2 linked regions of the Homo sapiens genome follow. The protein of the gene in region 1 interacts with the protein of each later gene in a pairwise test. Each region holds a gene or a part of one and is shown in the gene's direction. Other genes may lie near its edges.

Region 1 (3,653 bases):
AAACAGGGAAATTTCCCACAAGCCCTGAAGGCAGTGTGGGCAGCCCGGACTTCTACTCCAGGAAACATAATTAAGTTTCTGCTATATAATATGCCTGATTATTTTAAACAGTTGGATTAAGTTCTTTAACAGGTTATATATTGCTTTCAGGCATTTAGACTTAAGGAAATCACTGCGCTATCTTGTCAAAAATAGTGAGTCCCTCCTAAGCTGGCCTCAATTCTTTCTCCTGGTCACACTAATCTCCTTATTTCCTGTCCCAATGCTAAACTGCAGATGAATAAGTAACATATGATCAGTTACTCTCTATCTCATTGAAATTTTAGCCAGTCAGCAGATGATTCCAAGGGCCCACAGTCTGCAGCACACTGTGCTAGGGGGGCTGGGAAGGCAGTTTAAACAGCTCTTTGCTTAAAAATTCCTGTCCTTGGGGAATCTTGAAAAGAGAGACGGCCAGGCATGGTGGCTTACGCCTGTAATCCCAGCACTTTGGGAGGCCAATGCAGGCAGATCACTTGAGGTCAGGAATTCGAGACCAACCTGGCCAACATGATGAAACCCTGTATCTACTAAAAATACAAAAAAAAATTAGCCAGGCATGGTGGCATATGCCTGTAACTCCAGCTACTCAGGAGGCCAAAGCAGGAGAATCACTTAAACCTGGGAGGCGGAGGTTGCAGTGAGCTGAGATCGCGCCACTGCACTCCAGCCTGGGCGACAGAGCGAGACTCCGTCTCAAAAAAACAAAAAAGAAAAGAGAGACCAAACACACACCTCAGAAAGAGATAGGAGGATATCAACAAAGCAAGCAGCAAAACAAGCTTGAACTAATATAGCATTATGGAAACTTATGTTTGAGTGTTTGTTGTTCTGGATGCTTGCTTTTTTTGTTTGTTTGTTTTTTTCTTTTTTCTTTTTTGGAGACAGGGTCTTGCTCTGTCATCCACCCTGGAGTGCAGTGGCACAATCATAGCTCACTGCAGCCTCAAACTCCTGGGCTCAAGTGATCCTCCCACCTTAGCCTCTCAAATAGGTGAGCCTATAGGCATGCACCACCACACCCAGCTAACTTTTTAAATTAGTGGTGGAGATGGGAGTCTCACTATGTTGCCCAGGCTGGTCTCAAACTTCTGGCCTCAAGCATTCCTTCTGCCTTGACCTCCCAGATTGTTTGGATTACAGGCCTGAGCCACTGTGCCCAACCCTGGATGCTTCTTCATGAAAATGTAGAAACTTAGAGAAAGTGGTCAGGAGATTACCAATGACTCCAATCCTGTATTTCCAAAGCCCAATTTACCATGTCCTTTCCTTTTAAATAACTTTGCCTTTTACAAAAGGAGCATTCAGAACGGCACTTAAACCCTCATTTGGACTCGTAGTTTCCGGGGTCTCGGAAGCCCTGGACCTGAAATTCCCTGCTCCCTTTATCCCAATTTATCCAATATGTTGGGTTCACTGGAGACAAGACAGAGTTGGTGTCATTGCCACAGGGAGGGGTGAGAGGTGGGCCAGGGCAGGCCAGGGGCTGCTGGGCCCCTGACTTGTCTCACTGAGCGGCCTCCTGTTGCTTGTGTCCACAGGAGAGTACTTCTGGCTGGAGCCAAAGAATGCATTTGAGAATTTCCAGGAACCTGACATCGGCCTCGTCGCACTGGCTTTCCTTCAGGGCTCCTTTGCCTATGGAGGCTGGAACTTTCTGAATTACGTGACTGAGGAGCTTGTTGATCCCTACAAGTGAGTTGAAAGAGCCTGGCTATTCCCTCTCCCTTGAAGGGCCACAGCACCTGCTGCTGGAAAGAGGGAGCAGGTGTCCATTGCCCACCTCGCCTTCCAAAGCCCCATTCTAACTGTGATTTGATCTATCCTGAAGTCGTAGTTCATTTCCCAGGCACTTAAACCATTTGCCGTTCACCCCACCAGGAGGAGGAAAGGATCCAGTGACTTTCCCAGAGCAGATTAGAAGCTGAAAACTGTCCTGCAGTAACACTACTGCCTTAGAGAATGAATTGTGCCCTGAGAGGCTTCTGGGAATCTTGCTTGTTTCAGGACAGGCCGGTCTTGGTGTCTTGAGGCAGGGGGAAAAGGTGCATTGTGGAGATTCAGGTCAAGATCAACAGGTGTGGAGCGTATTTCCAACCTGAGTTGTTTTATTGCCTTCATTTTTTTAACTTATTTTTTCTTTTGTTTTGTTTTGTTTTTAGACAGGGTCTCACCCTGTCACCCAGGCTGGAGTCCAGCAGTGCAGTCATAGCTCACTGCAGCCTCAGTCTTCTGGGCTCAAGCAATCCTCCCACCTCAGCCTCCTAAGTATCTGGGACTACAGGCACATGCCACCATGCCCAGTTAATTTTTTAATTTGTAAAGAAGAGGCCTTGCTATGTTGCCAGGGCTGGCCTCGAACTCCTGGGCTCAAACAATCCTCCCTCCTTGGCCTCACAAAGGGCTGGGATAATAGGTGTGAACCACCACGCTCAGCCTCATTTCCTTTAAATTATCCTGCCCATATTGAGACAAAGCCCACCTCCCAGGGAAAGGAAGCCTCACAGAAGGCTGTAAGGCTACACGCATGCAGAAAGACAGAAGACACCCCCTGGACTCCATGGCAAGGCGGGTGTCCCGGGTGCCAGCCCTTCCCCTCACCTCCTCTCCCTCTACAGGAACCTTCCCAGAGCCATCTTCATCTCCATCCCACTGGTCACATTTGTGTATGTCTTTGCCAATGTCGCTTATGTCACTGCAATGTCCCCCCAGGAGCTGCTGGCATCCAACGCCGTCGCTGTGGTAAGAAATGAAAGTCCCAGAGTCTCATACCAGGAATGCAGACATAGACTTGCCTGCTGTAGCCCCACTCACTTTTCCCTGATCCATGGCCTTGTGGAAGTGGAAATCACCCCCAAGTTCTCAGGGCAGAAACCACATATGTCATTGGCTGGGGTATCTTTAAGTGCCCAGGAGCAAACAGGTGGCTGGGTTGTACCTAGAACAGCTACAATGGCAGAACCGAGTCATTGCCACAGAGACCGCGTGGCCTGAGAAGCTATAAGACATTTACTATCTGGCCCTTTACAGAAAAAGTTTGCCAACTCCTAGTCTCGGGCACTTAAAGCTCTAAATGTGAGAGTGGTATGAAGCAGACAGGCCCCTCCTCAGAAAGACATAATCTTGCACAAGACATGCCTTTTCTCTCTGCCTTCTCCTCCAGAAGCAGAAGTCAGGTGTGCTCTTTGGGGAAAGAGACCATGCTGGTGCAAGGGGTTGGGATCCTTCACATCTAAGAAGGACCTGGGAGGCACCTTGCTCCCTCACCTGGCATCAGGCTGGGCCACCACCCAGCCTGCCAGTCTCTTCACTGGCCTTATCTCAAAAGACTGTAAAGAAAGAGGTCCTCCCATCTCCTGGGGCAGCCTGTTCTTATGACCAACAGCCTTCTATTCTGAACAATCTCTCCTTGGTAATGTGCTGTAAACCTGGCTCAGGGAATATAGAAAAGGCTGGTCTCCTGCATTGTATAGTCCTTAAATACATGAAGATTCATCTATAGCTTCACAGCCTTTTCTTTCTCAGACTAAGGAGGGGCTCATTCCTATTATTTTACCCCCAACTCATCTGTTTTGATGAATTGAGAAATTCTCACCCTGTGATTCTGGATTAAT
Region 2 (3,653 bases), on another chromosome or scaffold:
TATCCAGTAACCTTGGTTTGAGTTTAATGCAATAAATGTTAACCATGAGATAGAAACCCTGCCTTCAGCTAGTTCACTGTGTGTACATAGAAAGATATGTATTTGCCTGTGTGTGTGTGTGTGTGTGTGTGTGTGTGAGAGAGAGAGAGAGAGAGAGAGAGAGAGAATGTATCCATGTATCCTTCCTTCTTTTCTTCCCCTCTACCTTCCATGCCCACTTTCCCTTCTTGTCCATCATGGAGTCAGACTTGGATTCAATCCCAACTCTATCAAATAACCTTGATTTGAGTTTAATTCAGTAAATATTAACCATGAGATATAGATCCTGCCTTCAAGTAGTTCAGTGGTTAGAAAGCTAGTAAATGACTATTGCTGTAAACAGTACATATTAACCTCTATATCAGAGATAAGTGTAGGTATATTGACATAGAAGAAGGAGTGAACCACTTTGCCTGGGGATCTGGAAACTCAGGAGAGTCTTTACCTGTTCTTATCCTCTTTGGCTGGGCATCCCAGTATCAGGAAGTGATGTGATATATATACTGGTAAAGTAGTCATTGGCCCTATCAATAAACATTTTTCCGTTTTATGTAAAAAGTATGAGTCACATCTGAGATGAGATCCTGCTTCTACTAACTTGTTAATTATGTGACCTTGACCAAACAACTTAGCTTCTCTGACCCCTTTTCCTCATCTCTAAAATGACAATATAGATTGTATGAAATAAATGTAGCTACATATTAGTTAACAATATAAAAACTAATTCTTGATTGAGCATTTATTATTGATCAGTCGCTCTTCTACATAGAACAGTTCTTACCTGCTTTTATTCATTTAATTCTCCTATTAATCTTAGAAGGTAGTATATTATTTTTCTTCCCATTTTATAGATGAGGAAACTGAGACAGGAAGGTTAAGTAACTTACCCCCAAGAGTTTCTTTTCCTAGAACTAGAACCCATGGAGTCTGTATACAGAGTCTGTGCCCTTGACCATTATTCCACATTGCCTCTCAATAAAGCACCGAGTGTAATACCTGATGCCCAGTAGTTGATCAATAAGTGACAGCTATAGCCATGGGAGTAATTTCCTCCTCTTCCCTTAGTTATCCAAGAAAAAGGCAGTACATCAGCAGAATTACATTTGGCCTAACGAGGCAATTCCCAGTGTGAAAAAACTGTTCTGGGAGCTAAAACATGTTTTGGACATTCATGTCTTAACCAGAGTCTGACTATAATTGTTAGGGGTGTCTTTGTTCTTGCCAAGATGCATTAAGTGAATTACCTACTGATTTTCATGTAGAAAGGGCTGGTGCCATGGCTTACCTATAACTTTATGACCTCCACTCCAGAAGAGGGAAAGGGAATCCTCCAGGGCGTGCTGCTACTAGAGGAAGAGGAGAGAGGTACAGGAATATGCTGAACGTTGCTGTTCTGAGGAGCCACTCAATAGCATTTTTGCCACAGTGGCGGAATTATTTATTTAAGGAAGAAAGTATAACTGGAGAATATTTCAAGCAGTTAATCAGTGAGCTGCATCTCCCAATTTCAGAGACAGAGGAACTCTAGAGAGCATGCAGAGCAAGTTAATCTCTACCCAAGGCATTTTAATACATTTGCTAAAGAAGTCAGTGTCAGCCGGGCGTGGTGGCTCACGCCTGTAATCCCAGCACTTTGGGAGGCGGAGGCGGGCGGATCACGAGGTCAGGACCATCCTGGCTAACACGGTGAAACCCCGTCTCTACTAAAAATACAAAAAATTAGCCGGATGTGGTGGCGGGCGCCTGTAGTCCCAGCTACTCGGGAGGCTGAGGCAGGAGAATGGCGTGAACCCGGGAGGCGGAGCTTGCAGTGAGCCTAGATCGCGCCACTGCACTCCAGCCTGGGCGACAGAGCAAGACTCTGTCTCAAAAAAAAAAAAAAAAAAAAAAAGGAAGTCAGTGTCAGCTCTTGTTATACCGAGGAAGAGAACATGTTCTTCCAAGGGGATAGTTGGTTTTTATTTGATTGAAATATCTACTATATATGAACATTTGCAGTGTGGCCCTCTGAAGTATTTCAGTTGCATAGTTCAGTTGTTTAATAATATTAGTTGTTAGTTATTAAATGACCTATAAAAACCATATGAGAGACTATTGATCCTCACCACAAAGACGAATGGTAAAGATTCATTAATTCAACAAACATTTCTAAAGTGCCTACTGTGTGTTAGGTACTGTACCAAGCTCAGGGATTACAGACCAGTAAGACATGATTCCGTGGTCCACTGAAGTCAATTGACATGTTAGCATTTAAGTACAATAAGGTGTTGGAAGTGCTCTGATAGTCTACTAAAGGCATGATGGAGATTGAAACTTGTGTCCTGTCATCCTCAGTGTCCATAGCAGCTACCATCATCTATGCCTATGCCTGGCTGGTTCCTCTTGCACTCTGGGGTTTCCTCATGTGGAGAAACAGCAAAGTTATGAACATCGTCTCCTATTCATTTCTGGAGATTGTGTGTGTCTATGGATATTCCCTCTTCATTTATATCCCCACCGCAGTAAGTACCATACTTAGGGAGTAGATTCTGAGTGATGCTCTGTTCTTGGTAGAAACTTCAACCAAGAATTTGACCTACCATCATTATTTCCAGCGCAATACTCATGTTCTTCTGAAAAAATCTCCTTTGAAGTTAGAAGTTAAGCATGAAAGGGGTCTGGGGAGCCTAGTGCCTTCATTGGATCTTGGGCCCTTTGTTATAAAAGCATATGCCTCAGTCTACATGCTGGTGGTGTTCCTCCAGCCTGTACTGAAAAACCAGAGTGGCAATGGGGGCCCAGCTGCTGATTGGCTCAGGGGCCTTTGTAAACATATGTGCCTGGAATGAACAAATGCCTCCCAAGAACTCCCCGCTCCTCCTTTTCTCTTCTTTCAGATACTGTGGATTATCCCCCAGAAAGCTGTTCGTTGGATTCTAGTCATGATTGCCCTGGGCATCTCAGGATCTCTCTTGGCAATGACATTTTGGCCAGCTGTTCGTGAGGATAACCGACGCGTTGCATTGGCCACAATTGTGACAATTGTGTTGCTCCATATGCTGCTTTCTGTGGGCTGCTTGGTATGGGTTCAGTCGTATATTCTTTTGGTGTGTTTTATATCCAAATGCTAAAAGACCTCAAACTGTTAGACACAACAGTTCTTTTAAAATTGAGTCCATGGGCTGGGCATGTTGGCTCACACCCATAATCCCAATACTTTGGGAGGCCCAAGTGGGCGGATCTCGAGCTCGGGAGCTCAAGACCAGCCTGGGCAACATGGTGAAACCCTGTCTCTACTAAAAATACAAAAATTAGCTGGGCATCGTGGCTTAAACGATCCTCCCACCTCAGCATCGCAAGTAGCTGGTACTTGGGAGGCTGAGGTGAGAGGATCGCTTGAGCCCAGGAGGTGGAGGTTGCAATGAGCTGAGATCATACCACTGTACTCCGGCCTGGGTGACCGAGGGAGACCCTGTCTCAAAAGAAAAAAAAATTGATTCTATGAAATAAAATTTCATTTTAAGTAGACTCACCTACATGGGAAGTGGTGAAATTATGAGAATTTGGCTTTAGTCTTTGGTTTTGCCTAATTTCAGTAATCTGATGAGAATTTGGGGTCTGACCAGAGGAAATAG

What was found. The genes of interacting proteins can lie anywhere in the genome.
Region 2: the proteins of SLC7A8 (region 1) and YIPF1 interact in binary tests that used the Homo sapiens proteins (3 or more experiments, as listed by UniProt).

Annotation. Positions count from the first base shown.
Region 1 is NC_000014.9:23,138,552-23,142,204, reverse strand, and holds part of SLC7A8 (large neutral amino acids transporter small subunit 2), read left to right. Parts: intron 1-1,580; coding exon 1,581-1,734; intron 1,735-2,657; coding exon 2,658-2,781; intron 2,782-3,653. UniProt on the Homo sapiens protein: Associates with SLC3A2 to form a functional heterodimeric complex that translocates small and large neutral amino acids with broad specificity and a stoichiometry of 1:1.
Region 2 is NC_000001.11:53,865,645-53,869,297, reverse strand, and holds part of YIPF1 (protein YIPF1), read left to right. Parts: intron 1-2,373; coding exon 2,374-2,540; intron 2,541-2,915; coding exon 2,916-3,098; intron 3,099-3,653.